6 separate regions of the Homo sapiens genome follow, and regions 2, 3, 4, 5 and 6 are each reported to be linked to region 1. Evidence: microRNA targets listed by miRTarBase, many of them from high-throughput screens and not tested one by one. Region 1 holds a microRNA gene; each other region holds the end of a gene's coding sequence.
The links. Region 1 holds the annotated microRNA hsa-miR-506-5p (UAUUCAGGAAGGUGUUACUUAA, at 2,291-2,312, opposite strand). A microRNA usually pairs through its seed, bases 2 to 8, with sites in the 3' UTR of a target mRNA and lowers its output. Matches are read on the target gene's strand: a 7mer-m8 pairs with bases 2 to 8, a 7mer-A1 pairs with bases 2 to 7 and ends in A, and an 8mer does both.

Region 1 (5,613 bases):
TGGCCTGGAGCAGGTGATTCTGACTACCAAGGGAAAATTGGAGTACTACTCCACAATGGAGGTAAGGAAGAATATTTCTGAAATACATAAGATGTCTCTTAGTATTACTATGCCTTGTGATTAAGGTCAGTAGAAAACTACAACAACCCAATCCTGGCAGGACTACTAATGGCCCAGACCCTTCAGAAATGAAAGTTTGGGTCACTCTACCAGGTAAAATATAATGGCTGAGGTGCTTGCTGAAGGCAAAGGGAATACAAAATGGGTAGTGAAGAAAAGTAGTTGTAAATACCAGCTAACACCAGATGACAGTTACAGAAATGAGAATTGTAGTTCCCATGAGTATTTTCTACTTATATTTTTATTAATATACTTCTGTGTTTTCTTGTCTCTCTTATCCCCTTATCATGTAACGTAAGGTGTACTGATATTATATCATAGTTATTAACCGTTGTTAACTTTAAATAATCATAGTATTGATGTTATGGAACACCAAGGAGAAGAGTAAACAAACAACACTCCAGGACTTTATCTCCTCTTCTGGTGAAGTGGTTCATGAATTCTGGGTTGTATAAATGGTAGTTGTATCTTATTAAATGAAATTATGACCTTGGTATTTTTCTCATTTGATGATTAAATATAATTTAAGGAGATGCGTATAAGTGACAACATGACAAGGAGTGAACTTGTGATGATTAATTCTATATTTCAACCTGACTGGGTCATGGAGTGCCCAGACATTTGGTCAGTCATTATTCTGGGTGTTTCTGTGAAGGTCTTTTTGGATGACATTAGCATTTAAATCAGTAGAATGAGTAAAGCAGACCACCCTCCCTAATGTGGATGGATGGGCCTGCACCAATCAGATGAAGGTTTAAATGGAACAAAAAGGCTGACTCTCCCCTAAGTTAGAGAGAATTCCTCCTGCCTGACTGCCTCCAAACTGGGGCATCTCATTTTTTTCTGGCATTGTACTCAAATTAAAACATTAGCTCTTCCTGGGTCTCAAACCTGCTGGCCTTTGGACTGGAACTACAAAATGGTTTGTTCTACTGCTTCTTTGGCCTCTGGACTTGGACTGCAACTATACCATCAGTTCTCCTGGGTCCCCAGCTTGCTGACCCATCCCCCTGCAGATCTAGGAACTCACCAGCCTCCATAGTTGCCTGAGGTTATTCCTTGCAGTATCCTTATAATAAATATCTTAAGGGATTTATTTTAAAAATAGACTTCTATAATAATTATATACATATATATTTGCTCAATCATTGTCCTGGGTGTTTCTTTGAAGGTCTTATAAGACCTGATCCAGAATCTGAGGGTGCCTGGGGTACCTGTGAAAAGTATGTCCTGTAGGTTTTTTAAGCATTTATTCCTTTTTCTCCACAAAAGGACTACAAAACACTGGGAACAAGATTTGAGGTAGGAACATGATCCTTTTTCTGCATCCTTTTCCTTTTTCTGTGAATGTCATATGTATGTGTGTGTGTGTGTGTGTGTGTGTGTATATATATATATATATATATATATATATATATATATAAAGGGATATATAAACCCCTTTGTATATGTAAAGTTTCCAGAAGTATATGTACACACATGTTCATACATATATGTTCTCATCACTTCATCCGTTCCCATAATAGTTAAGACCAGCTAAAAACATATAAATAGTTCAAATGAAAGCAAATTTGGGGTATCATATCAAACTCCACTGATATGAGATTATCATCACGGATACACAGGAATATTAAAGGGAATTTGAGTGTATCTAAGCCTTGAGGAGATCACTTCATAAGAAAGATGGTTCATGGAGTTTGGAGTTCAGCAGGGAAGGGCAGGAGGATATTTGTGCTCCCTAAAAAGAAGGCTTAAATATTGTGAGGAAAGAAGATCAGTGTAAACTTCTCAGGGGTTTATAAGGCAAGAAGTGTATTTGGGTTGTTATAGAGAGAAAAGACTAAGAGGTACAAGAGAAAAAGAAGTATCATGTTCCTACCTCAAATCTTGTTTCCAGTGTAGTCAGTCATTTTGTGGAGAAAAAGCAATAAATAATTGAAAAACCTACATGAGAGACTTTTCCCAGGCACCCTCAGATTCTGGAGCAGATCTCTCAAGAGGTACTTCAGAGAGTACCTGGAAATGGCTCATCACTAAAGGTTGGGTACCAAGGCTCAAGGGAGGGCAGTATTGTCACTGAAATTCCACTCGTCATTACCAATGCCACCACAAATGTTGTCCATGTTGCACATTACTCTACTCAGAAGGGTGCCTTACAAATATTAATCTATTAAGTAACACCTTCCTGAATAAGGCACTACACATAGTATGGCTGATGGTGGTGGCACTGACCATCTTAATAGTAACACGGGGAAACTACAGATGAGGCTATTCCCAGAGAACCTCATCCTCTAGGTTTTACCCCACAGAATTCTCTTTAAAGGGTTGTATGAGTTGACCCATCACTGAGTGGGTAGTTCTGACTTGTATCTGTTGTGCATTATTTCACTCCAAAAGGTGCAAAACATATTTCTAGACACATGCATGGCACTTCTTGAAGTGAAGCACTACACACAGCACAGCGGAAAATGTCCCTCACTCCGCCATTTCAGTCAGAATCCCAACACTCTCAGTCCACTAGGAATAAGCAGAATATAGTCAATAGATTAAAAAAAAAACAAACCCTTTTTCCTCTCCCTTTTGTCTCCTATGTCTTTCACTGAATGCTTATTAATTACTTCACCTGCTGCACATTTAATGAGACAGATTTTAGGAGAGAGAAAATTTTCCCTCTTCCTCCCAGACTTAGCATACTTCACTAAATTGTTCTGCTAATTTTCAATTTAATATAGTTGGCACATGAACAACTACTTCATATGCCTCAAAAGCCAGTCATTACATAGAAAGGACCACTCAAGTGACTCATCATATCTAGCGATTGCAGGCCAGATAGAGCTCAGTTGAAGCAGTGCTGGAGAGTTCTCTTCTTTCCAATTTGAATCTTCTTTATATCATTGGGGCCTTGGTTTGGCATCCTCTGTTCAGAGATGAAGGCCTACAGCAGCAGAAGCAGTAGTCACCACAGTCATGCACTTGCAAACCAGTGTTTAGACCAAGAAATATCTGCAACACATGTGAACACATGCATGCCACACATGCAAATAAACATGTGAACAATGAAACAAACAACCCCAAAACGAATGCTCACAAAATAGGGCAATGCAAACACAAAGACAAACACTGCATGATCTGACTCATACGCAGAGTCTAAGAAAGTTGATCTCATAGGAGTAGAGAGTAGAATGATGGTTACCAGAGTCTGGGGAAGGGAAGGGAAAGGGGGGTTGGGGAAAAATTGGTTTATGGGTACAGAGTCACAGTTAGGAGGGCTAAAAGTTCTGATGTGTTATTGTGCAGAAGAGTGATTGATTATAGTTAGTTAACAATATTTTATGGTATATTCCAAAATCACTAGAAGAGAGGGTTTTGAATGTTCTTCCCACAAAGAAGTGATGGACGTTTGAGGTAATGAAAATACTAAATCCCTGATTTGATTATTACACAATGCATGTATGTATCAAAACATCTCACTATATCTCATCAATATTTACAAATTATTATGTGTCAACTAAAAAAACAATAAAGGAGTAACAATTTTTTTTTTGAGACAGAGTTTTGCTTTTGTTGCCCAGGCTGGAGGGCAATGGCACAATCTCAGCTCACTGCAACCTCCGCCTCCTGGGTTCAAGCGATTCTCCTGCCTCAGCCTCCCACGTAGCTGGGATTACAGGCATGTGCCACCAGACCCAGCTAATTTTCTGTATTTTCTGTAGAAGCAGGGTTTCACCGTGTTGACCAGGCTGGTCTTGAACTCCTGGCCTCAGGAGATCCACTGGCCTCGGCCTCCCAAAGTGCTGGGATTACAGGCATGAGCCACCGTGCCCAGCCGGGAGTAACAATTTTTAAGAATGTAAAAATACTACTGAAAATTCTAATTAACACACATTTAAAAACACCATTCAAAATCGGAATAAAAAAAAACACACAAAATATACAAAACACATCCAAATATACAAAATTCTACAGGAAACAAAAACCCTAAAAAAGCAAACAAGCAATACAATAACAAAAATCAAAAAGAACATACACAATACAAAAACCCCCAAAACATAAAAACAAATACACTAAAATGTAACTTTACTTTCCAATAATCCCAAACAAAACAGAGAACGAAGTTCAAAGGAAATCTAGCACGTATCAGGGATAGACGACACTGCACTGAGAAATGCTGCGAGTGTAGGAAGGAGAGCAGTGGACACTGAGAAGTAAACAGATGAGGTATCATAATAAACAATGATAGAAAACAAAGTAGAACAGTTTCCCACCTCTTCACTACAGCCTGTATTTCCTCATGACTTTGGGTGAAGTGAGGTATTTGGCCACTGCAAAAACAAAATCCACACACATCATCAGTTGCCAACTAGACACCAAGAAAGACATGATTTGAAAGAGCTTTCCTGGGAGATAATGTAGCAGCAGACTATCAAATTCTATCCCATCCTCTGATATGGACATGTAACATTTACACCTTGCTTCCCAGGTCGTGCTTCCTGTGGGCTCCAGGAATTGGTTCTCCCTCCCCCTCTACTTTCTCCTCCCCCTCCCTCCCCTTCTCCTTCTCTCTCCCTCTTCCACCCTCTCCCTTCTCCCCTTTCTCCTCTTCCCCTCCCCTCTCTTTCTCCTTCTCTCCTTCTGCCTCTCCATACAGATATTTTTATATCAAGGTTCATAGCTACGTCTTTTCTAGTAGTCAAAGCCAAAATAGCTATAAACTGGAGACAAATGGCCATTAACAGGTGAATGCATTTAAAAAAAACTGGAATATCCATACAGTGGAATACTACTCATCCATAAAAACAAATAAATTATTGATGCAAATAACAATGTGGACGAATTTCAAAATAATTATGCCAGGAGAAATAAGCTAGGCCAAAATAAACAGTATATACAGTATGATTCCATTTTAATAAAAAATTTTGGCCAGGCACCGTGGTTCATGCCTGTAATTCCAGCGCTTTGGGAGGCTGAGGTGGGAGGTTCAGTTGAGGTCAGGAGTTTGAGACCAGCCTGGCCAACATGGTGAAATCTCGTCTCTACTAAGAATACAAAAATTAGCTCAGCATGGTGGTGTGCGCCTGTAGTCCCAGGTACTCGGGAGGCTGAGGTAGGAGAATTGCTTGAACCTGGGATGCAGAATTTACAGTGAGCCGAAATCACGCCACTACACTCCAGCCTGAGTGACAGAGAGAGACTCCATCTCAAAAAATAAAAAATAAGAATCTGGAAAATAAAATCTAATCCATAGTGAATAAAAGCAGATTAGTGGCTGCATGGCTCTGTGGTTATGTGCAGAAGACCGAAAATGAGGATCACAAAGAGGCAGGAGGAATCTTTCAGGGAGGATGTATAATATTCCCTATTTATTTTGATTTAGGGGATGATTTCATGGGTGTATAAACAGAATATGTCAAAGCGCAAACTTTATGTCAGTCATGTATCAACGACGCTTTTTAAGAACTAAAGCTATCACAATACAAAAATCTCAAAATAACA
Region 2 (5,613 bases), not on the chromosome of region 1:
GCCTTCGGGATAGAAAGTGTTCTCATATGGAATAGAAATTAAGAATCTATCAGATAGTATTAAGGTGACATTACTAGCCTTATCTCATTTCCCCGTGCTTAGTATATTTCATCATAGGTTTAAATGCTTCACCTTTTCCAGATTTATTAAAACTAGTGACCCATAACATGGATGAAATGGGAAAATGTCATTGTGACTTCTGAAATAAAAAGCTTAGATGTGTGTGGCAATTGAACATGTTTCTTTTTCTTTCCATGTATGATGAATTTTGATATGAACAACATGACTTCCTAACTCCAAATCAACCAGAAGCCTCCCTTGGCCAATGTGCCCTATTGCTCCAGCTCTCAGGCTGGTTGTGCAGTGGGTAGTTGCCTAGCGTGGAACTTTTCTTTCGCCCCAGTTCACATCTGGCACACAAGGCAGGCCTCAGTCCATCTGGATCCCTCCCTACATTGTGTCCTTTTTCCTTGTTCCACAGACTTGATTAACTGTCAAAATGTTTTGTTTTGTTTTGTTTTGTTTTGTTAATAGGACCTGCTGCAGCTACAGTATGAAGGAGTTGCAGTCATGAAATTATTTGATAGAGCTAAAGTAAATGTCAACCTCCTGATCTTCCTTCTCAACAAAAAGTTCTACGGGAAGTAATTGATCGTTTGCTGCCAGCCCAGAAGGATGAAGGAAAGAAGCACCTCACAGCTCCTTTCTAGGTCCTTCTTTCCTCATTGGAAGCAAAGACCTAGCCAACAACAGCACCTCAATCTGATACACTCCCGATGCCACATTTTTAACTCCTCTCGCTCTGATGGGACATTTGTTACCCTTTTTTCATAGTGAAATTGTGTTTCAGGCTTAGTCTGACCTTTCTGGTTTCTTCATTTTCTTCCATTACTTAGGAAAGAGTGGAAACTCCACTAAAATTTCTCTGTGTTGTTACAGTCTTAGAGGTTGCAGTACTATATTGTAAGCTTTGGTGTTTGTTTAATTAGCAATAGGGATGGTAGGATTCAAATGTGTGTCATTTAGAAGTGGAAGCTATTAGCACCAATGACATAAATACATACAAGACACACAACTAAAATGTCATGTTATTAACAGTTATTAGGTTGTCATTTAAAAATAAAGTTCCTTTATATTTCTGTCCCATCAGGAAAACTGAAGGATATGGGGAATCATTGGTTATCTTCCATTGTGTTTTTCTTTATGGACAGGAGCTAATGGAAGTGACAGTCATGTTCAAAGGAAGCATTTCTAGAAAAAAGGAGATAATGTTTTTAAATTTCATTATCAAACTTGGGCAATTCTGTTTGTGTAACTCCCCGACTAGTGGATGGGAGAGTCCCATTGCTAAAATTCAGCTACTCAGATAAATTCAGAATGGGTCAAGGCACCTGCCTGTTTTTGTTGGTGCACAGAGATTGACTTGATTCAGAGAGACAATTCACTCCATCCCTATGGCAGAGGAATGGGTTAGCCCTAATGTAGAATGTCATTGTTTTTAAAACTGTTTTATATCTTAAGAGTGCCTTATTAAAGTATAGATGTATGTCTTAAAATGTGGGTGATAGGAATTTTAAAGATTTATATAATGCATCAAAAGCCTTAGAATAAGAAAAGCTTTTTTTAAATTGCTTTATCTGTATATCTGAACTCTTGAAACTTATAGCTAAAACACTAGGATTTATCTGCAGTGTTCAGGGAGATAATTCTGCCTTTAATTGTCTAAAACAAAAACAAAACCAGCCAACCTATGTTACACGTGAGATTAAAACCAATTTTTTCCCCATTTTTTCTCCTTTTTTCTCTTGCTGCCCACATTGTGCCTTTATTTTATGAGCCCCAGTTTTCTGGGCTTAGTTTAAAAAAAAAATCAAGTCTAAACATTGCATTTAGAAAGCTTTTGTTCTTGGATAAAAAGTCATACACTTTAAAAAAAAAAAAAACTTTTTCCAGGAAAATATATTGAAATCATGCTGCTGAGCCTCTATTTTCTTTCTTTGATGTTTTGATTCAGTATTCTTTTATCATAAATTTTTAGCATTTAAAAATTCACTGATGTACATTAAGCCAATAAACTGCTTTAATGAATAACAAACTATGTAGTGTGTCCCTATTATAAATGCATTGGAGAAGTATTTTTATGAGACTCTTTACTCAGGTGCATGGTTACAGCCCACAGGGAGGCATGGAGTGCCATGGAAGGATTCGCCACTACCCAGACCTTGTTTTTTGTTGTATTTTGGAAGACAGGTTTTTTAAAGAAACATTTTCCTCAGATTAAAAGATGATGCTATTACAACTAGCATTGCCTCAAAAACTGGGACCAACCAAAGTGTGTCAACCCTGTTTCCTTAAAAGAGGCTATGAATCCCAAAGGCCACATCCAAGACAGGCAATAATGAGCAGAGTTTACAGCTCCTTTAATAAAATGTGTCAGTAATTTTAAGGTTTATAGTTCCCTCAACACAATTGCTAATGCAGAATAGTGTAAAATGCGCTTCAAGAATGTTGATGATGATGATATAGAATTGTGGCTTTAGTAGCACAGAGGATGCCCCAACAAACTCATGGCGTTGAAACCACACAGTTCTCATTACTGTTATTTATTAGCTGTAGCATTCTCTGTCTCCTCTCTCTCCTCCTTTGACCTTCTCCTCGACCAGCCATCATGACATTTACCATGAATTTACTTCCTCCCAAGAGTTTGGACTGCCCGTCAGATTGTTGCTGCACATAGTTGCCTTTGTATCTCTGTATGAAATAAAAGGTCATTTGTTCATGTTTGTGTTTTTCTCAGTTTCATTGTTAACAGTTCCTGCTAAACACCTTGACTAGAGTGAGATGTATCAGTTAAAATCACAACAGCAGACAACCCCTTCCTTTTAAAGGAGAAAACGTAAGTCCACCATCAGATCATTGAATGTCTCAAAGTGACTTTTAATGTGTGAACGTGTGACTTTAGCCTTTTTAATGAATATGCTTAAGTTATCTTCACCATAAAAAGAAGGGTGTTGCGGGAAGCAAACATTATATGTCACTTAATTCTGATTGACGAACGGTGGAAAGTTTAAAATTGCAACAGCATTTAACCTTTTTTGACCAGCATACTGTTGTTGAGCACATAGACTGTGCCCCTTAGGGGGTTCCTATGTCACTTGGAAGTCACCAGAAAAGACTAGGGGATGTTGAATGTGGAAAAAGTAAATCACAGCAGTAAAAAAAGAAGAAAAGGGGCTGGCGTAGTGGCTCACACCTGTAATCCCAACACTTTAGGAGGCCGAGGCGGGCCGGATCACCTGAGATCAGGAGTTTTAAGACCAGCCTGGCCAACATGACGAAACCCCTACTAAAAATACAAAAATTAGCTGGGTGTGGTGGCACACGCCTGTAATCCCAGCTACTCAGGAGGCTGAGGTAGGAGAATCACTTGAAGCTGGAGGCGGAGGTTGCAGTGAGCCAAGATCACACCACTGCTGTCCAGCCTGGGAGACAGAGCGAGACTCCATCTCAAAAAGAAAAGAAAAGGCTTCCTTGTCAGAGGGCAGCCTTACTTAAAAATACAAACATGTACATAAGCATCCTGTTGTGTTGGTAAACTGTGGCCAGACTATATTGGAAAATTAGTGACAGGTTGAAATAAGGGGGGAAACGGAATAATTCTAAAATAGGGAAAATGAAAAATTGGAGGTGATGGTTTGTACGAGTGGTTGGAGATGACCGCATGCTCCTCTGAGGAAGAGTGAGGGGAAGAGCATGGCTCTCCTGGTGGGACTCTGGAAGGTACCCTTCTGAGCCCCAGGTTTCTCGTTCTGAAATGGAAAGGATGCTGTCTGGTAGCTTTGTTATTGAAACCTGAAATATTTTAATAATATGCTCTATATTGTCCTGCAAAGAAATCAAGGGAGTTAGAAAAGTGCTTATCAGGACTGGGTGCAGTGGCTCATGCCTGTAATCCCAGCACTTTGGGAGGCCAAGGCGGGTGGATCACAAGGTCTGGAGATCGAGACCATCCTGGCCAAGATGGTGAAACCCTGTCTCTACTAAAAACTACAAAAAAAATTAGCTGGGCGTGGTGGCGCATGCCTGTAGTCCCAGCTACTCAGGAGAATGAGGCAGGAGAATCGCTTGAACCTGGGAGACAGAGGCTGCAGTGAGCCGAGATCATGCCACTGCACTCCAGCCTGGGGGACAGAGCGAGACTCTGTCTCAAAAAAAAAAAAAAAAAAGAAAAGTGCTTATCGGCCGGGCACGGTGGCTCACACCTGTAATCCCAGCACTTTGGGAGGCCGAGGCAGGGAGATCACGAGGTCAAGAGATCGAGACCATCCTGGGTAACACGGTGAAACCCCATCTCTACTAAAAATGCAAAAAATCAGCTGGGCTTGGTAATGGGTGCCTGTAGTCGCAGCTACTCAGGAGGCTGAGGCAGAAGAATGGCATGAACCCGGGAGGTGGAGCTTGCAGTAAGCTGAGATCGTGCCACTGCACTCCAACCTGGGCAACAGAGCGAGACTCCATCTCAAAAAAAAAAAGCTTATCAAGGTATAGCAACATTAAATAAGAAAAATAAGAGGGAAAATCAGAGTAGGGGCTGGACGTGGTGGCTCACACCTGTAATCCCAGCGCTTTGGGAAGCCAAGGCGGGTGGATCGCTTGAGATCAGAAGTTGGAGACAAGCCTGGCCAACATGTTGAAACCCTGTTTCTACCAAAGATACAAAAATTAGCCCGCGTGGTGGTGCGCACCTGTAGTCCCAACTACTTAAGAGGCTGAGGCGGAAGGATTGCTTGAGCCTAGGAGGTTGAGGCTTGTGGTAAGCCATGATTGCACCACTGCACTCCATCCTGAGTAACAGCAACACCCTGTCTCACAAAAAACAAAAAGAAAAAAAAGTAGGAAAGTAAGATGGAACCCAGAGCAATGGCAGAGTGAATGCCATGGAGTCCCAGCTGCTGCTGGTGGTGCCACTGCACCAACGGGGAGGGAGACGGGGTTGTCACAGCCCTGCTGCTCATTCTTTTGCCTGTGTATCCCTGAAAATAATTTGGGAAAACGTATACATCCCTTCACACATTTTAAGTTTGACAAATACATTTTTAATGTTTAAATCAAGAGTACCTGCTAGCATGTGAATTTTAATATAAAAATGACCATAAAAATATCGAATGGAACCCACCTTCATTCATTTTTAAAGGTACATGAACAAAGCTCTTAGTTGGAAATTTCTTTTTTATTTCTTTTTTATTTTATTTTATTTATTTTTGTTTGAGACAGAAGTCTTGCTCTGTCGCCCAGGCTGGAGTGCAGTGGCGTGTTCTCGGCTCACTGCAACCTCCACTTCCCAGGTTCAAGCGATTCTCCTGCCTCAGCCTCCTGAGTAGCTGGGACTACAGGCGGCTGCCACCACACCTGGCTAATTTTTTGTGTTTTTAGTAGAGACGGAATTTCACCATGTTAGGCAGGTCTCAAACTCCTGACCTCAAGTGATCCGCCCACCTCGGCCTCCCAAAGTGCTGGGATTACAGGTGTGAACCACTATGCCTGCCCCTGGAAATTTTAAATCTTTACAAATTTAACGTTTTTTTTCTCTACTCTGCTTCCTTCAGAATTTTA
Region 3 (5,613 bases), not on the chromosome of region 1:
GAGAGAGGGAGGTGAGAGCGTGGTTGAAACGGGAGGAGGAGGGAGGGGTGTGTGTGGCAACACTCATTCTCAGCTCAGGCCGTTTCCATGGCTAGAAGATGAGCAGATATTTGTAGCTGGGAGAACAACTCACCACCCACTCCCATACCCCACCCAGGGTGGATCTGAATAGGACTTTTTGTCCATCTCTGGTTTATTTTCTACAAAGCATCTACAGTCATCTTTCTGAAACAAAAATTCAATTATATAACTTACCTGTTTAAAATCCTTCAATGGATTCTTGTCACCCTCCGAATAAAATCCAAGTTACTACTTTAACCTACCAGTTCCTACATAGTCTGTCCTGCCCACCTCTCTAGACTCATGCTCTGGATCCCAGTACTCTGACTTTTCTGTTCACAAGCCTAGCCTTTCTCTGCCACAGGGCCTTTGTAGACGCTATCCCTTTGTGGAGAAGACTCTCAACACCCTTCAAATACTATGATCTCATCAGGAAGGCCCTCCCTGACCACCTATGCCTGGTGAGTTTCCCTTGTTGCTTATTATTTCACAGTTTTATTCTCTTCACAGTGCTAATGGCAATTGCAATTATACATATTGTTTGTTCATTTGTTTTTATATCTTCCTTACTAGATTATAAGCTCCGTGAGGGCAGGAACTATATCTGTCTGTTTTATCTAGTGCCAAAGGATGTATTCATTTATTTTATTTTATTATTTTAATTCTTATTTTAAATTCTGAGGTACACGTGCAGGATGTGCAGGTTTGTTAGATAGGTAAGGAATCAACCCAAATGCCCATCAATAATAGACTGTATAAAGAAAATGTGGTACGTATACACCATGGAATACTATGCAGCTATAAAAAGGAATGAGATCGTGTCCTTTGCCGGGACATGGATGGAGCTGGAAGCCATTATCCTCAGTAAACTAACACAGGAACAGAAAACCAAACACCACTTCTATTCATTTATTTAATAAATTCCCATTGATAATAATGTCTTATTACAGTGTCCAGGGTGGCAAACACCCTAACCCAGAGTGGACCCAATCCAACATAAAGAAAAGCTATACTTGCAATGGTTTGATGAGGTCTCTGCATAGTCAGAAGTGACTACAGGGGCTAGTGAGCACTGTTGCTATGAAAAGCAGTATTAGTAGGAAATGTTTCTTACTAAGTGGTAGATGTTTAGGCATGGTTTTGAATGAGAAGGTTGAGTGAGAGGGAGTTACTGTGCTCAGCTCATCACTGAAGGCAGGGGGAAATTGAAGTAAGTGGACTTTGAAAACTGAGGTGCTGTCTTCGAACACTGGGGATGATGGTTTGTTCTTGGATGGTGTATGTGTGGGTGAAGGAGAGCGTATGTCTGAGTTAATGTGTGTGTGTGTATGTGTGTTCATGCACACAAATGCATGCTTGGGCTGGCTGGATAACCAGGAAGCAAGAGAAGCACAGTTGTCCTCTCACTGATGGAGAGATACTGCAGAGAGCTGGTCCTGGGAGATCCAGAGCCTACCGTGAACTCCTCTGCTACAGACCTCCCTCCAGGACTCCATCCATACCACACCCATCCTCACACAGCCTGGGAGTATTCTCTCTTGAATAACTCAGACTCTCTGAAGTCTTAGGTCCAGGGTGTTGGACTGATAGGAACGTATCCCAGGGGACTTTCTAACAGAGAGTCGGAGAGTGGGACCTGGCATTAGATTGAAGTGGCAGCCTCTCTCAGACGGGTGGGAGGCTGACTTCAAGACAGGGGAGCAAGGATAGAAACTGGTGCTTCTCCTAGATAATGTTTTCCTAGTTATGCTGTTGTTTTCCTTTGGACTGTGGGAATAGTCTTACTTAGTACTCAATGTAAAATATTTTCTCTCATCTTATAAATCCTGTCAGCTACCCCCAGTCCTCTAACCTAGTCTGTTATATGCATATCATCTTGTGGGGAATTAAGAGACAGGACAAGAAAGACATGTGACTTTTTGCACTTCCCTCTTCCACCAAGTTTATTACAATAGCAGCAGCAGCAGCAGCTTTCCATTGAGGAGAAGGGTGGCTGGATTCAGACTGGAGCAGGAAAGTAGGTCCCAGTGGGGATTTTGAGCTGTGCAGGGGATGCTCAGCTGGGAGCAACTGCAGTTACAAGGGCAGTGGCCGAGAGGTAAGACCCCTGTCCTCTGCAAATACGTAAGCACAATATATGTGATCCTTCCTCTGCCAGTTTCCCCGCTGATCATCAGCATCACCTGAAGTCCTTGTTAAAAATATCCAGAAATACTCTGGCTCCACTCCTGAAGGTCTGGGGTGTGGCGTGGGATCCTCTATATTGTCGAAGCACCCAGATCGTTCTTCTCATCTGGGAAATGTGGGACTCACTGTCGCAGAAGGAGGTGATCCTTGCAGGGCTGGGGAGAGGCTGACATTTGGGTCACACATTACTGACCCTGCTTCAGACAGAACGTACAGAAAAGGAGTGATATATTTATATGTAAATATATGTCTATACGTCTCTGTGTGTGTGTGGTGTATGCTTAAAACTCTTAGGAAAAGCTTCTTCTCTAGAAGAGATTATAAATCACCTCACTGGAAAAGAATCAAAGAACCAGGCTTTCAATGGACTCCACTTCTTTATTTATAAACCCATCTTCCAACCTTTCTGAACTTCTTAAACAACATGAATTCATCTCAAGTTGTACAATCTGTTACCTTGGCAAGCTTCTAATGACAAATCTTATTTTCCATCTTTGAATGTGGCTCTTAATTTCTCTACTAAACATTGAGAGCAAGAACCATTGCGGCAGGGGAGGAATGGGAGTGTGCTTGTGGATTTGATTTGATTTGATTTTTAAAGTAGTTTTGCTGTCAGAATTCTTTATATCTCTTTCACATGGAAAGGATATAAAGATACCCTGAGGACAGATCATACTCAGATTGTTCTGTTGTGTGGCAAATTTGTCCTTTTATTTAAAAAAAAATCACTTCATCCATGTCCTTGTTTCTCTCTATAACAAAAACAGCATAGGATTAGTCAAAGAGCAAAAGTGATAATATAGATGCCTCTGTAATCCTGTGTAGCTTTCACACGACTTTTAATTGGGAGTATGTGAGTTTATATATATATATATATATATATATTTATGTGTGTGTGTGTGTGTGCGTATATATATGTATATATACATATATTCAGAGAATGCTAATAATGCTCTAAAATAGCAGTTTATCTAGTCCAGTTTTTATACTACATAATGACACCCAACCCACTGCCATGCTTTAAATGGAAGCAGAGGTAAATTTTTCACTAATTATACATTTTAGGGCAGCAACTCTGTGCTGGTCTTATGGTGTTTGGGGACGTTTTTGATATATAAATAGTTAAATGTGTTCTGATTTAAGTGAGGCTTATGAATTAAAAGAAGAAGAAGACTTCTGATTTTCATTCCCAGACCTCCACTCACTCAGCATTTTAGTATGATAAAGATAAACCCTGTACAAATAGTGGATTCTTTCCCCCATTCTAATCACTGGAGAGTGCTGACTGCACAATCTAACCAAACGGTGTGTTGAAGCCCCACTGCTTAAGATGATTAAATGTTTTGAACAAGGAATGATTCAGTTGCCATGGGAAGACCGTGGCGTGTTGATGCAGTGGCCTCCTGTAGGTTGAATAAGTTCAGTGTTTACCCTGTGGGCCATTTATTTTCAAAATTAAATTAAAATTCTTACTCTTAAGGAGCTGCAGTTTGATTGTTTTGTTTTTAGGGGCAGCTTGAGTTCCTCCACATTCCATGTCTGAGCTCACATGTGTGCCTAATTTCACAGACAGCCCCTGCCACCCGCCCGCCGAGTTCAGACATACTCTGCTGCCTGCAGCACGGCAGCTCCTAGGATCCCTAAAGCTCCCAGCAGCTACACAACTTGAGTGCCTACAATTTTTAATACAAACTCACATCCTGAAATCCTAATGTAGAGTATTATGTTAACATACAACAACTAATTATCAGAGACGCAACATTCGTGGAGTATATAATAACACATATATTTGCAATTTAGTTTCTAAGTTTTACAACCTAATGTGAGTGAACAAATATCAGACATCTTGGAGGCTTAATATAATTCTGCACTAAAATTATAAAGACTATGAAACCGAATAAAGGAACTTACACGACAGCTAAGAGTTATTACTGTATAAAATACAACTAAATGAATATTTTCCATATGCTTAATTCTCACTGATAGAAATTATTCATATAAAAACTTCTTGGCATCTCTTCTGGTGCTTCTCTTAGTACTAGTAACAGCAATTAATCACAAAAATTCCACAACTTTGTGGCATTATGACTAAAACATAAGCAGAAAAACAAAATAAAACTCCAGGAGGCAGAAATACATCACAAGCTCCATCATAATACATGTTTGTCTTGCTATTAAAATGTAAACTCTTCCAAAACTTTCCCAAATGACTTACATTCATCAATAAGTGTGATTTTTACTTGTTAAAGTGAAGTTAAAGAAAATATTTAGCATATATTTACCCTCAGTTTTAGAAATGTCATACATTAAATCTAAATTGACTCTCTTCCTTTTTAAGTTTGGTGTCTCCACTTTATCTTTTAAATATGGAAAATAACTTCTACATAGGTCAGACTTGATTTTGCCAGTTTCTGCAGGCTCAGTTGATTTCACGGCTTTGTAAAAGAAATGAAGTGCGAGTCCATGTCCAGCATCCACGGAGAGGCCACCTCAGATGAGCCTACGGCGTCCAACAAAGTAGAATGAACTGACTTACCTGAAGAAGCCCAGTCTAGATTCATCAAGCCATTTGTGTGAAATTCTGCACCTTGGGGTTTGCACACATTTCCACCAACATCGGTGTCTCCATCCCCAAATGAAAAGCATCATGAACAGAAAAGAAATCAGAGAAAAAGGAGAAGGAGAAGCAGGTCTACACCAAAAGGATCATTTCTTTCATGAGGCAATGCCTCACGGGACACTTCCGTAAGGGGATGTCAAAACTGCTGCCACACTCAAGGACTCTTCCATTTTCCTCAGGATGAAAGGTTTGAAAAAGTGGACCTCTGAGAGGAAATGCTGCAGACTTCCAAATTGGTGAAAGAACTTCCAGCGTCGCTTGGATACTCTGGGTAGGAGGAACTGGAGGAGATGATATTTTTGAGCCTCTGGAGGGCAATGATTAAAAGCAGAAGCAGAAACGCTAAAAGGCTGAGGAATATGGACACATAGATGTAGACGTTTGACAGGTGGCCTGAGGATGGGTCCACTGACGTGGACAGGGATGTGGGAAACAGCTCAAGAAAAGTTCCATTCTCCACACTTCCCGAAAATCCTGAGGAAGTGTCAGGTTCAGACATCTTTATGGAGGGTGAAGGAGTGATCTGGTAGATTAAAGTCAAAACTTCACACAGGGCTTACACAGGACAGATTGGCATTTTTTCACGATCGTGTTTGCAGAATTCACAGGCTGTTAAATCAGCACAACAAAACTTGTTTCTCAAAGGCAGCAGGTATCAGATGTGCATTGAGACTGAAAAAAAAAAGCAAGTCAGTGCATTCTTCAGAAAAATCACATTTAAATTCCATTTTTAGGTTTTATTTCAG
Region 4 (5,000 bases), not on the chromosome of region 1:
CCCCCCATCCCACAACAGTCCCTGGTGTGTGATGTTCCCCTTCCTGTGTCCATGTGTTCTCAGAAAATGACCTTTTTTTACTTCCTGGATCTCATTTGTTTCATGTGCAAAATGGGGGATACATGTACCCACCTAAAGTAAGAGAGTTGAAACAGACAAGTTCTCAGTCCCTGTGAGTTAAGTTCTAGTATTTTCTGGGACACAGAGATGAGTATTTAAAAGCAGGAGGCCTGGGGTAGCATGAGAGGACAGAGGATGATGTTAATCAGCTCCCGCAACATTCCTCTTTGTTCTTGGCCAGGTGATTTGCTGTGTCATGAAGATATAACTTCAAATGCATTCTGCAACCTTATCTTTTTCTTCCACAAGACTACATATAAGTCACTACATTTTAAAATAAAACCTTTTAAGGGTAAGCATGGGTCACATGTTTTTATTCTTCTCTTCACACTCTCAAAATAAAATAAACATTCATAGTATGGAGTTAGACCACTAAATAAAATTAATTAGCATCTAACATTCCTCTAGGGTCTTAAACCACAACCTAATGGTACGGATCTTGCTTCTTTTCTTTAAAATCAAAGAAGCTAGCAAACTAAGACTGTGTGTCTTTGTGAGGCTTGCTATTAATCTGGGCTCTGCAAAGCAGGGCTACTTAGGTGTTCAATGATAGCTATTGGAAAGCAATCTCATTGCAGGTTTTAGAAGCTCTTGATGAAATGGGTGATCTCTTGCAACTGAAATATTCCCGGCACAAGAAGTCAGCACGTCCTGAGCTCTATGATGAGACGAGCTTTGAACTCGAAGATTAAGTTTCCTGGTCCTGAATGACACATAAAGACTTTGCGAGAAAGACCTCCCTCCTTGCCTCACAAGGAATATAAATGGATTTCTCCCCCTTCCTCAGGACAATTTTGGTTCCCAGACCAGCTTGATTGAACTGAGGGAGACGTTGTTGTTTTTAATGTCTCCAGCTTGGACTGCAGAGACAAAAACATGATTCCAGATTTAAGTCTCTCTTCTTCCAAGTATTCTACTAGAAATACACACACACACACACACACACTTCTGAGAATATTTTTAATGGCAATAAGCCTGTGTTTTAGCTGCTACTGTGCAGACCCTTTCAGGGATTCCAACCAAATGCAAATGAGAGAATTTAAAATTTTTATTCAGTAAGTTCACTATGTGTTTACTTATTCCATCTGCAGATGTAAGTGAGTGTGGTGGACAGTAGCCACCTTCCTTGTTCCACTCATAAAAGCATCAGCTAGATCTCATCTGTATCATGGGAAGTTCCAGGCAGGAGGGTAAAGAAATGTTGTTTCTACCATTTGTCACATTTGGACGTTTTTCACAGACAAGTGTCAAAAGACATAGTTAATGTTTCGAGGGGGAAAGCAGAACTGATCAACTGCGACTAGAGACGTCTTTGAAGGAAATTTTCCTTTTCCTCTTGCTGGTCTCCTACAGTTTTACAGCTGAGCTTTTGAGGTTTGGAAAATTCAAGATGTTTGTTTCATAAGAAAAGGGGCAGAAAGCAAGCACAAGACACTTTTAGGTCTAGACTAAAATGGTAGTTACAACAATTTGAACCTTGTTGGTGCAGTGCACGGTGAATGCTTACCCTGCACAGCCTCTATTACCTTAAGGAATTAGTTGTCATTTTCCTATTGAATTTTGAGTAAATGGTGAAATTCAGTGTCCTTTAGAATCGACTCCCAAGACTATATTTGAAGAATGCATTGATTCAAGAAGGACATTTAAAAGCAAATTCTGACTTTTTCAAGACCAACACACTTGTTTAGGCCTATTAAATTGTACTATCACTTGTTACATGCCCTCTGAATTGGGAGAAAGTGGGCTTGCACACTTTGAGGTAACTAACTGTAATTTACTTGTGTTCTCTCTTTCTTGCTCTCCTTCTCAACATGAACACAAACCTCTATGGAAAAGTAGCCTCTTGTTAATCTGATCTAGTTTGTATGGAAAAAGCCCATGGAGAACCTTATCTTTAACAAGCTCCCAGAGGGTGCCCAGATTTGGAAATTCTAGAGAGCAGTGGTGACCTTTTAGCAAAGCTTCTGTAACAGTTCGAATGAGTTGCAGAACATTCCACTCCATCAAATGACACTGTAAACAAATCACTTCAAGAGAGGCTTGGTTTTGTGTGGCACAGATGGACCCAAGCTTTCATGCTGTGCACTGAGATAGAAACTCCACCCGCAGCGCCTGCGATGGATGGAGCAGTGTGCCCTGATGCTCAAAGCGTATTAAAGGAAAAAAAGTGATCAGCATGGAAAGTTTTTATGGGGAAATTATAACTCCAAGTGGGTGCATTGGTTTAAAAATGGATCACAATGATAGAGTTCTTCATGAATGTTTACAAGTTGTAAGGAATACCGTTAGTGAAAGAGGAAAAGAAGTGGGTTCTGAAAATGCAGTTTCCCATCCAATGATTTTGATAACAAAATTCCAACTTTTCTCAATGAAACTGATGCAGTATTATTTGTGCAAATAAAATGTGTCATAAATATGCAAAGAAAGGGAGACATACTGTTCTTATCTTGAATATGTGCATTTAAATGAATTGTCCAAAATGCATAAATGCCTTGCGTTCTATAAAGGAAACAGGAGGTCAAAAAGACAGCGAGATATCTAGTCCTTCCACAAGGTATGGAAAGCAATAAACATCTTCCTTTCTTTCTGGATCTGTCTGTGATGTTTACACACACCTTCACATCTACACTTCAAGTTTTAAGCCCCTAGACATGTGTCTTCATGAGCAGGAATGTCCACTATTATTACTTTCATGGAGGATATTGGGTCTAATTCATTGTGGGAAACTACTTACCTACCCAGCATGGAAGGCAGGGAGGAAGTTAGTCTCTTTTCATCAAGATTCAAGAGTACAGGGGCAATTTATTACACTGCAATGTACAAAACAAAAGGACCTGTTTCTGTTAGAGAGTCCATGTTGAATATACAGGTATGAGAACAACTGTTGATATACAGGTATAATCCAAGTAGAATGCTTCCACAGTGCATTAGAAGGTGCCCAAGCTCCACAGGGCCAATAATATTAGAGTATATGTCATATAGAATAAGGTTAATTAGGAGGGTGATTGTGAATAATGAGATTTTTAATTTTTTTAAGAAAAAGCTCTCAAATGCTAGGCTAATAAGTTCATGATTTTAATTCATGATTTTAATTCATGATTAAAATTATTTGATTATTGAGTCTTGATAATTATATCATCAACCATTACCCTCTACATCACCGCCCCGACCTTAGCTCTAATTATATCAGAGCCAAAAATGTGTCTTTGGTTAGATCTGTTGGAAAAGAGAATTTTCTATAATGTTATGCGCACTCAGCCCTTCTGTTCACATTTACACACATGCACACACACATACACATATGCATTTTTCCTTTACGGAGTAAGCAACTATGAAAATCTGGTTGGTTGAGAAATAAATGGAAGATGTTCTTGAAAATGACCTCAGGAAAGCAGAAGATAAAGGTTCCAGATGATATTTGTAAGGAGGCTATCTCTGTATAATAAGGAAATGGCATAGACTTATTCCTAATCTCATTATGAAACGATGGTGTCATGGACGTTTAACCATATTGCCTTTCAGCATGCTTTGATTTTACAGAGACGACAGGCTTTGGAATTTACTAGGAAGCTGGCTAAAATCCATACCCCTAGGCCCTACACCAGACCTTTACTGAAACATAATAGTTGTAGTGCCCAGGAATCTACATTTTTAACCAGCCTTCCTGCGTGATTCTAATCTATGCCAAAATTTAAGAACATTATTCAAACTCTAATTTGATAAACCAATTGACTCTAATAGCAGGAACCTTGTTCTGATTCTCTTGTTCATAATTAAGTGTATATATACTGGTAAAATTAATTTATTCCACAGTCAACCTTCTCTTCTCATTGGGACATTTTGTTCCCATTTTCCAAGTAACTTCTCTTTCTACAAAAATTGATCCAATATTGAAGAACCATCTGCGATTCATTTGGGTAAAATTATGCCTTCTTCAGTTTTCTGTATCATTCCCTATAAGATGCCCATTTGCTTTGAATGTGGTATCTTTCTTTTCTTTCTTTCTTTTTTTTTTTTTTTTTGAGACAGAGTTTTGTTCTTCTTGTTGCCCAGGCTATAGTGCAATGGCAAGATCTCGGCTCATTGCAACCTCCACCTCCCGGGTTCAAGCGATTCTCCTGCCTCAGCCTCCTGAGGAGCTGAGTTTACAGGCATGTGCCACCAAGCATGGCTAATTTTCTATTTTTAGTAGAGACAAGGTTTTTCCCTGTTGGTCAGGCTGGTCTCGAACTCCTGACCTTAGGTGATCCTCCCACCTCGGCCTCCCAAAGTGCTGGGATTACAGGCGTGAGCCACCGTGCCCGGCCTGAATGTAGTATCTTTCTTCTGTTTTCTTTTCCTGCTCTTTAAAAAACAACCTTCAACCTCTGATTATTTATTCCAACAACAGCTCTTCAGTAGGGTAAAAGTCTTAACAGTTCTTCAAACGAACAATATTCTTTTGTATTTTTCTTCAGAGATAGCAAATGTTATAAATGGCCTACTCTGATTTAAAAACCTAAGTTCCGATGATGATGAAACATTAACTCTTAAATATACATTTTGATTTATAGCAATAATAACAATTGTAACAACAGCAATTAAGAACAGCATCTGGTGAATTCTTGGCAATGTTTCCTGGTCTCAAAACAGTAAGAACAATTTGAAGTCTGTTCTTTAGAATGCCCTACTCAGCTGCATAATGTTTAGAAAATTAAAGAGTCTGTATTTTAAATATTTTTAGGTAATTATTGCGGGACATTGTCTTATGGTGTCCTGATGTACGTGGGGTGTGCATGTGTGTGTGTGTGTGTGTGCATGTGTCTTTGTGTGTGTGAGAAGGACAGAGAGAAATGTATGTTTCACTGAAACATTTGAAACGACCAATTTCACTTTATTGT
Region 5 (5,613 bases), not on the chromosome of region 1:
CATAAGCAACTGCTATGCTGTTAGATAAGATTCTTGAATTTCGTTTGCTTTTAAAATTCAGTATCATATTTAAAGAACAATATGTAACTTCTTGATTATATATAATTCTTTCAGCAAAATCAGTCTCTTCTTTTATTTGTATATTTTGTCTGCTACATAAACTACCAGCTTTAGCACAAGAACAAAATTTATATTCTATGGAAAAAATACAGTGACAATATAGAATTTTTGCAATAAAACAGTAGTGCAGGGATAAAAGAGGTAGTATTACAAACACAAAAGTCTTTACTGTTATTCTTTATGCCTGTTGGATAATGTAAGAAAAAGACATTTTACAGAGAATTTCATCAGTAGAAAACACAATAGAAGTCATCTGATTATGCAGAAATACACATAAAAATCCCTTTACAAGCAGATAAAAAGTTCCCTTTTATGTATAAAGCAGTAGACAATAGTACTTCATCATTAAGTTGGTTGAATCCTGGGAGATATATTTTTTAATCAAAATAGCTGTTTTCGGATAATCTCCTATACATTCAAATCTCTATGGACCTCAGAGGGAAAATGTAGCACTGAAAATTTTAAGAAAAGCTATTTTTTCTGCTTTTGGATTGTTTCCTTGTTTTCAAATTAAAATTCATACAAACAATAAAACATTGGAACATCAATGCACAATGATTACAGGAGGCTCATGTAACATAGGAGATCAGTAACACTCGAAATGTATTTTGTATTTATTAGGTAAATGTAATGAAATCTCTGTATATATGTATACTAAGTCAAACTGACATACTTATCAACATATAGGGCACTGGAGGGATAAATGATGTAATTCCATGTAGCACATAGAGACTATGCCATTATCAATACTGAAACAAAATTCAATCCTTCGGGTGTCTTTAAGAAACCCAGATGGTTGATCTTGCGCTGATAACACAGTGAAATAATTAATTGATTCCAGTTTTATTCCACATCTTACACATCAGACGGTCAGTAAATACCTAAAGTGTTTGAATAGGGTCAAAGACATTGTAAAAAAATTTGGAACACTTAGTTATGCCATTTATTTATTTGAACGTTTAAATTCCACAATATCCAAACAGGAAAAAAGTGTTTCCATGATGCCTTGAAGTATAAGAAAATTCCTATATGACTCAGTTTTTCAAAATAAAATAAAAATATATTCCTTTTAAAGTTGTGAAATCTAATTCCCCTCATGACATTATGGTAAATGAGCACACCAAATCAAGACATTCTTTGTATCTGTTTTTTTAAGTAAGAGCTATTAAATATTTGATTTACAGTCATGTAGGTGGGAAAAAAATGAGTTGAAAAAGGAAGAGGAAGGCTATTTCTCAATGTCCCCAGCTCATCTGGCTATTTATTATTTAGGGCTTTTTTAAAAACCTATATAAAGAAAGCCATGGTCACTGATATGCCTATAAACTGAGAAAATACCATCTGTACATATATTCTCCATTTGATATAGGAAAAATTCAAGAAGAAAAGGCACTAAAGAAAAAAATTGTAAAGAGCTGTATCTACTCACAGGAGGTCATCATTATTTTAAGACAATTGGAAGTTGGAAAGGGCTGTTTAATGTGAATCCAAGAAAAAGCAGCCAATATTTAATAATATAAAAAATGATTGGATGGGATATTTTGTTGAAAAAAGAATGAAAAACAATAAAATTATTGTATCTTACTTTAAAGGAAGTTTTATTATAATTGTAATTATGAATTAAATCTTTAAATGAAAAGGGATAATTGTATATTAATTGAATGAATAAATCAATAATTATGCATTAATAGTCCCATTACAGTTGATGCTTTTTGTGACAGCATTGTTTGATAAACATATGCCTCTTTTACTATTATGAAAAATCTCATTTCTGCAAGAAATATTCTAGAGAGTCAAATTTTTCTAGAAGTCTATCTTGTTTCTTAGATACTCAAATAATTTGCTTTTAAATTCACACTATTTTTGTTTGGAAATTTATTTGCATCATTTCAAAATGTTATGGTCAGATGTTTATAACACTCAGTAATTATAGTGAAACTGACCCATATATAATAAATAGAAGGCATAGTTTGCTGAGTGGGGAGGACATGTTTGATAAACGACTACTTCATAAATGAACAACTTTTTTAGTGAATAATCTAAAGTTTGGTACACTATTACTTTCCTATGCAACCTCATCATTATTAGGATTGGGATAATTATATTTAGATAAGTAAGGGTCCCCCCATTGTTATACATGACATTAACCGCACACCTAAGAGACCTGATTCAGGAATTTTTCACTTGGGATCCAAGAAAACATTCAGGAGATCCCTAAGATCTCTGAATGCATGTGAATTATTGTCCATATAAACAGTTCTATACTTTTCTAGGGAGAGGGTCTATAACTCACTAGATTCTCAAGGTATCTGCCTTAAAAAGTTAAGAACTACCATCTAATTAATTTTTAATGTATTTCAGTTGACCGGGACACAGCATAACTCTTTACTCTCTTTAAAAATTCATTACCCTTTTTACAGTTCCCTGACATCTCATAATCTGAATGTAGCAGCAAATAGCAGTTCCCTCTCCAGATCTCTTGTGTCCAGGCTCTATCATCCTGTGCCAAGTCCTTATCTCAGCCAAGATTGTGAAGGATAGATTTCAAGGCCCAGTAGTTGTACCTTAACAGAACAGAAAATAATGACTGAGTAATGACATCATCAGTGCAAGTCTACTCAAAATATGAAGAAATGAGAAGAGCAGATAAAATGAGAACTGAAGCCAGTCTCTATCTAATAAAGTGGTGTGTTTTCTATGAACTCCAAAATATATTCCTTATCTATAATTTTTAACATTTAATCAAATTATCAACTCAGATAATGAAGTGGAATTTTGTTATAAAATTAAAAGTATGTAATATCGTCTTGAAAATTATTGAGAAGATGTATCTAATAGCTGTTTCACATGGCATATTTCAGATGAATTTATCTATCAGGCTTTAATGACTGTACCCAGAAGTTAGTAATTATTTTTCCATGTCAAACAATAAAATTATTTTAATTCTCCAAATTCTGAGCAAATGATACAAGCTAAGCCTGAGATAATTATTATACCATAATGATTTACTATTTTTCTACTTTTATCAGCATTAGGGTCTCACATTTCATAGTGACATATTTTCCATGTGAGAAGCAACTAAAAGATCCTTTCAAAATTTATCCCAAAGCTTAATATTCATGAAAGATTACATCTCACTCATTAGTAATATATATTTTAGTTTTTAGCATCCTCCCTGCTACTAAAAAGATTTGTTTCTATTATATTAATACTATATTATTTCACCATAGTTTTCTAAGGGCCTTCACAACCTGTTGTCAGTCTTATGCTTCAGAACTCCCCAACAGACATCTTCTAGGGCATCCAGATCTTTCTAATTAAAGTCCTATAAAGATACTTCCCCTATTATTCTCACTTTTATCATTTGGTTGGTATTATTCCTTTATATGCCCTCACTTTCACTCAATTAATGCCTTTCAAAGAGAAGTCAAATTCTGCTGTTCCCATAAAGTTTGTCAGTCATTTTCATTTTCTCTGACCTTCTGTATTTACAGTTTATGCTTAGATTTTTTATTCTATATGTCTTCTATCTTTTGTTTTTGTTTTTCATGCATTCTCATTAACTACCTTAGGAGTAAGACCATATCTTTTTCAACTCTTCTACATTTTCTCAGGACTCACTGCAGTTCTGAGTATGCCTCCATGAATACTCATTGATCGGATGATCACTCTTGGAGGTCCAGCACAGAGCAACGTGCTTGGTAACTTAATTTCCTAACCTAAAACAAGCGCAAGAGATAAAAATCTAAATGAAGCATCATAGTTATAAGTGCTTATAATAAATGCTAACAGTGCAACCAAAGATCATAGGACACTCTAAGTGTTTATAGAAATAGAACCTTACGTTCCTCTCAGAACTGAAAATAATAAGAAATAGTTTGTTGTAATAATTATTTTGTCAATTGGCAATTCAATTTTCAATATTTTATCCATTTGGAGAAAAACCAAATCAACAACTAATTGATTTCTGTCCAATACTGATGAAAAGTTTTAAGTACCTGAAAACTGTCCTTGCAGGGGGACATTTTATATTTTATTTACTAAAATTGATGATCTGACATCTCTTCTTCATAAGAAAAGAGAATTTGGAATGTGATTCTGATGCAGTCAGAAGCATGAAGAAAACAAAAGAACATATACTACCTGAATGATGTGCATATGTGTATGTGTATGTTTGTGTGAAGGGATACAATTCTGGTCCATATTCCTGAGGAAAATATTCAATATGTTCCTTTTCCTGAACAGAGACTGGAGATATAAATATGCATGGATGCTTTTAGAATTAGTGTAATTGAACCAACTACAATAAAATGAGGATCTAATTTTAGTAACCAATGTTTTTATAAGTTATCCATATTTTATTGTGGAAAATTCTCACATTTATTGTAGATTTGCCTTTCAACCACAAGTGACAGATAATCTATTATACATTTATTTATCCTATAAAGTTTGAACTTTAGACATGTCTACTAGACAATGGAGAAAGGCAATGACCACCTGATATGTTGATCTTGATTCCGGAAGACTGATGTGAAAGTTGAAGAGAAGATGGAAATGAGTAACTAAGAGACTGTTTGTATATTTCAGTCGTTTAACACTTTGCAGTCATTAGTTCCAGTAGTACACCACCAAGTTGCTGCTTTTAAAACATCAATAAAGAGCTATTTCTTATGCTGTACCTCTTTTCAGGAAAACAGAATTTAAGTGGATTTGGACTCCGTAGTCAAAGAAGAAAACACCTTTTTTTCGCCCTCAATAATTCATTAACACTATGATTTTTCTTCCTGCGAATTCTTCTGTTGCTTCTATCAGTTTTTCATGAACAACACATTCCTTTAAGAAAAAAAATAAGCCAAAGCAACATATGAAACACAGAGCATAATTGCATAGCACCAGCATAGAATTGCTTTCCAGTTGATGAATTGGGTCTGTTTATTTCTTATAATTCATCACCATCATCTGAGCTAAAGCTACTTCTCCTACTGCTTTCTTTGGAAACTGCAGGGGAAGTGGCAGATAGCAGAGGATCTGTTCCAAATGGAGAGATTGTGTCATCCAATAGCATGCCATCCAATCTTTGTTCCTCTTTCAATGCAGCACTAAATGATAAATCTGTGAAGTATGACAAAGGATCAGAAAAGGCTATAGCTTGATCACAGAGCTCAGGGCTTGGCCCCTGAGACACAGTCAGTTGTTGGCAATAGTCTACTGAATTCTGCTCAGGATGGCTCTGCTGTTTGGTGACATGAGCACCTAAATCAACCGTGCCAAGTGAAGCCAGGGTTGGCAGACCATGAGTACGAGCCTGAATTTCTAGTTCCTGTAATTTCAAACGAAAATCATTAAATAATGTCTTTGAAATTGGATTTAACACTAGAGAATAAGCCAGACATAGAATCAAAATATTAACAAGCATTTAAAATGAAGAGTAATACAATACAAATTATGAATAATCTTTGCAAATAATGAAATTGATACATTTCTGATGCATGA
Region 6 (5,613 bases), not on the chromosome of region 1:
TTGTTTCCATTGCATCTGTACCCTCCCTTAGGCTTCTTTTTCCTCCTCTTGTTTCCTGAGGCAGCTGGCAATAGATACTCTGTCCATCCATCCAGTCCTTGCTTACTCAGTTCTTGACATGCGCCTGCTTCTGAGCTAGGCTCAGAGGACGCAGTTACAGTCCCTGACCTCATGATACTCAGTCTCGCTGGGGATGTAGACAGACAGTGAATATGTGAGTAAGTGAATGAATGAATGCCAAAAATTTCATTTTATATTTACATGAGGTGTCTTCCAGCCTGGATACATTGGCAGCCCTTGTCTTCTCTGAGTTCTAAAATTTGTGTTTCTAAGCCCATTTCCAAACTTTTTTAGCCATTTTAATTTCAGTATATAAAGTATCTGGGACCTCGTTTCCACCATCTGCACATTTATTGAACATGCTCAATGCTCCATCATTGTCTCATAACAACTGCCTGTACAAGAAAAGCCACCAACTCCAGTATGTGACTTTGCTGATGGTTTATTACCTTAAGGAAAAGACTTACACAGAGAAATTGAGCAATGAAAACCCTTCACATTGAGCAAACACATTCCACGCTACACAAATCATGAGAAAAATGAGAACTGTTGTGAAACATGACAGATTGCCCAAGTGTTATTTTTCCTCTATTGGAAAATTCTAAGACGTTTCCTCATGTGTAGTTTTTCAGTCACAAAAATGGCAGTAGGAATATTTAAATATTAAATCACAGTTTGAAAATAGATACATACATACATATATATACACACACAGGGATACATAGTTGACTTATGATTCCCAGATATGCAGGGTTATCATTGTGACTGCTTTGGATCAAGACAAGTTTGTAAAAAGCAGCGACATAGTTCAACATAATAGTCAGGAGCTAGATTACTTCCCTGTAATTGCTATGCACACACAGTACAAGGCTAGCGAGATTATAGACAATCATGTCATTCGAATCTACTATCTTTGATAATTCTGAATCATTTTCAAAGTTAAAATTGCAGCTATTGTCAGTAAAGCGCCTCTTATAAAGGTCATGCCTTTTGATTTGGGGGACAGAATAACTAGGCGTAGCACAAGAAGAGATGGCTCAGGTATCAGACTATCCTGGGTTTCCAGTCTTGGTCTGCTGTTCACTAGCTGGTAAGACCTTGAGTACACGACTAAACTTCTGTGAGACTCAGATGATAATGCCATATTCTATAGGTTTGCTGTGAGGATTAAATGAGATATGGCAGGAAAGCACCTTCCACAAGGCTTGGTGTATGCTAAGCGCTCAAAAAATGCTTATGATAAGGTTTAGCAAGATTTAACTTGGTGAATTCAGGTCTCCTTCCCTTTTGCACACCTAAGCACACCTGAGTAATTCACTCTAAGTATGAATGTAAATTTCCTCAGCAAAGGTTAACTAACCCTTAGGGTAGCTTTCCTTTGTCTCAGAACATATAGTTAACAAGGGACCACAGAGGTGATGATCTATTTGGTCTGTTTGAAGCCCCTTGTAGATGTAATTCTCCAATAGGTGTCATTCAGGTCTTTTCCAGAGGCCTCCGCAAGAGCAGGGGCTGGTAGAATAAGCTGCTGTTTGAGCTCTAACTTTTTGGGGGCACTTCTCTTTTCCACTTATAAAATAGTGAAAGATGCATACTCAAAATTGCTGTAACAATTAAATAAAATAATGAACAACTTAGCATAGTGCTTGGCACCAAGTAAACACTCAATCAGTGGAGATTTTTTTCCATTATATTTATTATTCTTAATTTTTATTGAATCAGGCCACACCATTGCAGGGAAATTCTGACTTAGAAAGCGCTTCATTACATTGGATCCAAATTTCCTTCTCCATGGCTTCAACCCATGGGTCTGAGACTTGCCCTCCGGGCTCTGCATAAGATAGTTCCGTTTCTCAAAACCAATGGCGACTGGGTTATTCTGACCACCTTCCTGCACCCATTGCCAGAATAATCCCTAGTTTCTCCAACCAGACTTCCTATGATCTTTGAAAGCTAAGTTCAGTTTCCCAAATTGAGATGCAAATTCAGTAAGAACCTAGCTCTTGGGTTTCCACTGAATTTCAAATGGAGTGAGCTGTTATCCAGCCTTGTAATTTGTAGATGGCAGGTGTTTTCACTCTCAGAAAATCTAACATGATTCACACTGACTTACAGAAGAGATCATTCATGGAGTGAATTCTCTTTATACAAGAATTCTTGCATACGCATACACAAATATATGTATACATACATATGCATTTCTTTGAAATATTAAATGTCTCTTTTGCTAAGGCACTTAATATAAAATTTTGACTGTTAAAATTCTATTTTCATGTAGCTTTGGAAGAAGAGAGCTTCGAATAAAAGTAGGAACACATGCACAGCTTCCTGTATTCATCAAGTATTTAATGAGCACCACTGTATACCTTGCACTGGACTAGGTTTTGGGGAGGTCACAGTAAGGAGGATGTATTCCCAGTCCTTTTCCCGTTTAGGAATCTCTCTGCACACTGCACAGAATTCCCTGTGAATAACTACACAACATTCAATATGCAGCATTGGGTAAACAGAATCATCTTTTAAATGTGTGATGAGAGCTGGTTCCGATGGGAAAGAGGGAATAAGCTACAGGGGATTCCTGGATTTTTGTGTGTCCCATGTATTTTGGATGCTTAAGCACCTAAATTATCAGAAAATCAGATATTCTCGTCTTTTGAAAAGGAGCTAGAAAGACTATAAGAGGGAAAAATGACATTAAAAAATCAAGCCATTTATTGCAATGTTTTCCTATTCTGACACATTTGGAAGCTCTAAAAACAGGGGGAAAATATGGGTTATAAAGACAGTCCAATTTCGATCTGAATCCTAACTTTCCCAGTCACCAACTGGGTGACTCTGGTTGAGTTTTCTCACCTCTATGAGCTTCCGTTTCACATTTGTAAGAACAGAAATAATAATGGGAACTTCTCAACATTGTCGTGAAGATTCAGTGAGCTAATACATGCAAAGCACTGAGAGCAATGTCTGGCACAGAAAAGGCCCTAAATAAAAGAATTCTAACAGTAAATATTATATTTTCCTAATACAATAAATAATAGCCTGATATTCATTAACAACAACCTTTTCCTTTTAGCTTCAACCTCTTCAGCTTTAAACCTTTATTAAGTCTATTTCTGTTTCTAAACAACCGGTAAACCTCCATCTTCCTACCAGAAAACTGGCCATTTGGTCAGCAGAACGAAAGGCTGTGAAATGAGTCTCTGCAATAGATGTGTCCTGAACACGGGGGCCCCTGGAGTCCCACAGCCTCCAGCTCTAGAGGTCACCCCAGGCTGCTACCAAGGGCACCCACTTCTTGGTTTGACCCACACCCCTACCTGAACCTGTCTTGGTCATTTCAGTGGGTCTGGCATGGTCTGCAGCTGGGTCTCTCAAGGCTCTGTAAGAGTAGAGGAGTGTTCCAGGGCACCACTCTCAGGGGCCAGACAGGCCAGTCCAGAGGCCTTACCAATTCCTATGAACCCCAAGCAGGACAAGGGAGAAGATTCAAGGAAGAGCCTGGCCAACTGCCCAAAGCCCTGCCAGTCAGCAGCTGATTCAGTGTGAGAGTCAATTGGTCCTTCTGAAACGGGCTGACCTTTCCCTGTCTCTGGAGTATTAACTGGGGGCTTTTCCCATCAACAGGAATGTTTATCAAATTTTATTTCTGACTGGGACAAACCTAATCTGTACCCTTCACAGTGTAGGGGTGAAGAGAAACTTAACCTCAACAATGCCCAGGTTAATGGATACAACTTTCCATTAAAAATCAAAATTAAGCAACTATTCAACTCACTTGGCAAATGTTTGATGACCTTGAGGTGCATACATATTTGGAATCAGGATAGTTTTGGTGCGCTGACGTCAGAATTACCCATTACAGTACCTCTTGGCAGGCTCCAAATAATAGATTATTCTATTGTTCCAAATTCCATCTATTCATCTGAATGGACCCAAAGAGTCTTGTGGTTTGGCATCTAAAGAAGAAATTAGTGATATTAAAAGTCTACCTGATTCCATTTCTTGGGATTTAGGCAAGATCCAGCAGGACTTCTAGTGACTTGGAAAGGCTGGATCAGGCTTGGGTGTAGTCCAGAACAGCTAGAGACAGGCATTTTTCTTTAGAGTAGATGCTGAATGATATCAAGGAGAAAACTCATAGCATGGGCCTGAGCAGCACCATCAGGCGTCATTTGAATGGTTAGAGACAGAAATGGAGGCCAAGGGTCCAGATCAGGGTAACTAAGGCTCATTGGTGAAAAGTTATTGGCCATAAGGGCTGACTGCTTCACAGGCATTGGGTTAGTCCCCAAGACCCAAGATTTGTGCCTGCCTAGTTGGCAATTTCTGAGAAGTCAGGGTAGGATTCCAAGTCAGCAAAGATGTCATTGGGATTCCTACAGCTCAGGTTACAGAAGCAGGCATTAATCCATAGGACCTGGCGGGAGAAGCCAAGCCCATCAGGACACTGGAAGGACACGTCGATAGTCTTAGACTTGTAGGGGATGCAGCACCTATTGTCCATGCAAACTCCACAGTACTTGGGTTGATAGGAGCGTGTGCTGATGCAGCCCGCAAGTGTGAAGTTCATGGATGCCTCTGGCTGGTACACAGCCAGACACTTCTTCCCTGCCTGAAGGAAAGGAAAGGAGCTTTCAGTGGGAGTGCTCAGAGAATGGACAACCACCTTCTTCCCCTGAGCCCCCAGTTTTTCCCTTCTCACTATGTGGGAGCATTCCACCTTACTTTCAGCTTCACAGCATCCTCAAGCAAGGAGGGACAACAGCAAACACAGTGAGATCCAGCATACCGCACAGGGGTAAATGGAGGACCACAGAGAAAAATGTTTTGTTTGGGTTGTATCTCACAGCCTGCAGTTTCTCTTTTGTCCTGCATTTTTGTCTTGCCTATGGCCAGTCATTCATCATGGTTTCACCAACATGGGGAGCCTATGTAGCTCCTTCATCCAAGCAAGTTCCCCTGGCTAGCTAGTGGCAGAACTGGCATCGGGACTCCACACTCAGGGGACACGCTTTGCCCTAACCGCCCCTCCTGCCTTTGCCTCTCGTGGCCTTTCACACATACCTTTAGTATTCAACGTATTCAAATGGTTGACATTAAAGGTAACGCTACCTTCCACTGGGCTATGGGCCACTTGAGATTTACTGTTCTTTCTGTGTTTCTGTGGTATAATTCCATGCCTAGTACAGAGTAGGCACTTACTAAACCCATTGGATTGAGGGTTCTCAGGGTCTACTGTGTAAATAGTATGCTAGATCTAGGCTGTATGGCGGCATGAAGCTTGCCCAATTTGGGAAACCCTCTGAGGGCACATAATTCTGGAAAAAAATTGGTTGGAAATCAAAATTGGCTTGGACTTGCATTACGTGGTCCAGTAATGGTAGAGCCATCTCACTCAGCTAACGACCTTTGCTGTCATTCCTCTGCAGCTGGTACCTTTTCCATGTACGTTTTCAGTTAAGAGATGTCTATGGAATGCTTACTGTATACCAAGCGCAGAAAATACAAAAGCTAGTATTACAGGGAAAAATAATCAGAGAGGAAGAAGAAAGA

Region 2: miRTarBase lists IQGAP1 as a target of hsa-miR-506-5p. The part of its 3' UTR that is shown has no 7-base or 8-base seed match.
Region 3: the mRNA of SERTM1 is a reported target of hsa-miR-506-5p. Seed matches in the 3' UTR shown: 7mer-A1 at 3,178-3,184.
Region 4: miRTarBase lists SPTLC3 as a target of hsa-miR-506-5p. Seed matches in the 3' UTR shown: 7mer-m8 at 823-829 and 7mer-m8 at 4,426-4,432.
Region 5: miRTarBase lists TFEC as a target of hsa-miR-506-5p. Seed matches in the 3' UTR shown: 7mer-m8 at 2,322-2,328 and 7mer-m8 at 2,288-2,294.
Region 6: miRTarBase lists CCN4 as a target of hsa-miR-506-5p. Seed matches in the 3' UTR shown: 7mer-m8 at 1,535-1,541 and 7mer-m8 at 1,329-1,335.

The regions. Positions count from the first base shown.
Region 1 is chrX:147,228,498-147,234,110 of GRCh38, forward strand. It overlaps MIR506 (microRNA 506), which reads right to left and starts at 2,346; the gene lies at 2,223-2,346. MIR507 (microRNA 507) reads right to left here and starts at 2,580; the gene lies at 2,487-2,580. All of the region lies in intron 2 of LOC105373347 (periphilin-1), which reads left to right.
Region 2 is chr15:90,499,461-90,505,073 of GRCh38, forward strand. IQGAP1 (IQ motif containing GTPase activating protein 1) reads left to right here. Exons shown (of 38, transcript NM_003870.4): 38 at 535-2,779. The coding sequence ends at 648. Among named protein-coding and RNA genes, the nearest start is that of CRTC3, 28 kb to the right of the region's middle.
Region 3 is chr13:36,694,832-36,700,444 of GRCh38, reverse strand. SERTM1 (serine rich and transmembrane domain containing 1) reads right to left here. Exons shown (of 2, transcript NM_203451.3): 2 at 2,606-5,539. The coding sequence starts at 5,366. The coding sequence ends at 5,043. It overlaps LOC102723490 (a long non-coding RNA gene), which reads left to right. Exons shown (of 7, transcript XR_001749825.2): 6 at 425-521. Among named protein-coding and RNA genes, the nearest start is that of SERTM1, 24 kb to the right of the region's middle.
Region 4 is chr20:13,164,056-13,169,055 of GRCh38, forward strand. It overlaps SPTLC3 (serine palmitoyltransferase long chain base subunit 3), which reads left to right. Exons shown (of 12, transcript NM_018327.4): 12 at 699-5,000. The coding sequence ends at 812. It also overlaps a transcript of TASP1 not described here. Among named protein-coding and RNA genes, the nearest start is that of ISM1, 55 kb to the right of the region's middle.
Region 5 is chr7:115,935,492-115,941,104 of GRCh38, forward strand. TFEC (transcription factor EC) reads right to left here. Exons shown (of 8, transcript NM_012252.4): 8 at 1-5,440. The coding sequence ends at 5,060. Among named protein-coding and RNA genes, the nearest start is that of TFEC, 92 kb to the right of the region's middle.
Region 6 is chr8:133,226,470-133,232,082 of GRCh38, reverse strand. CCN4 (cellular communication network factor 4) reads right to left here. Exons shown (of 5, transcript NM_003882.4): 5 at 393-4,672. The coding sequence ends at 4,373. Among named protein-coding and RNA genes, the nearest start is that of CCN4, 38 kb to the right of the region's middle.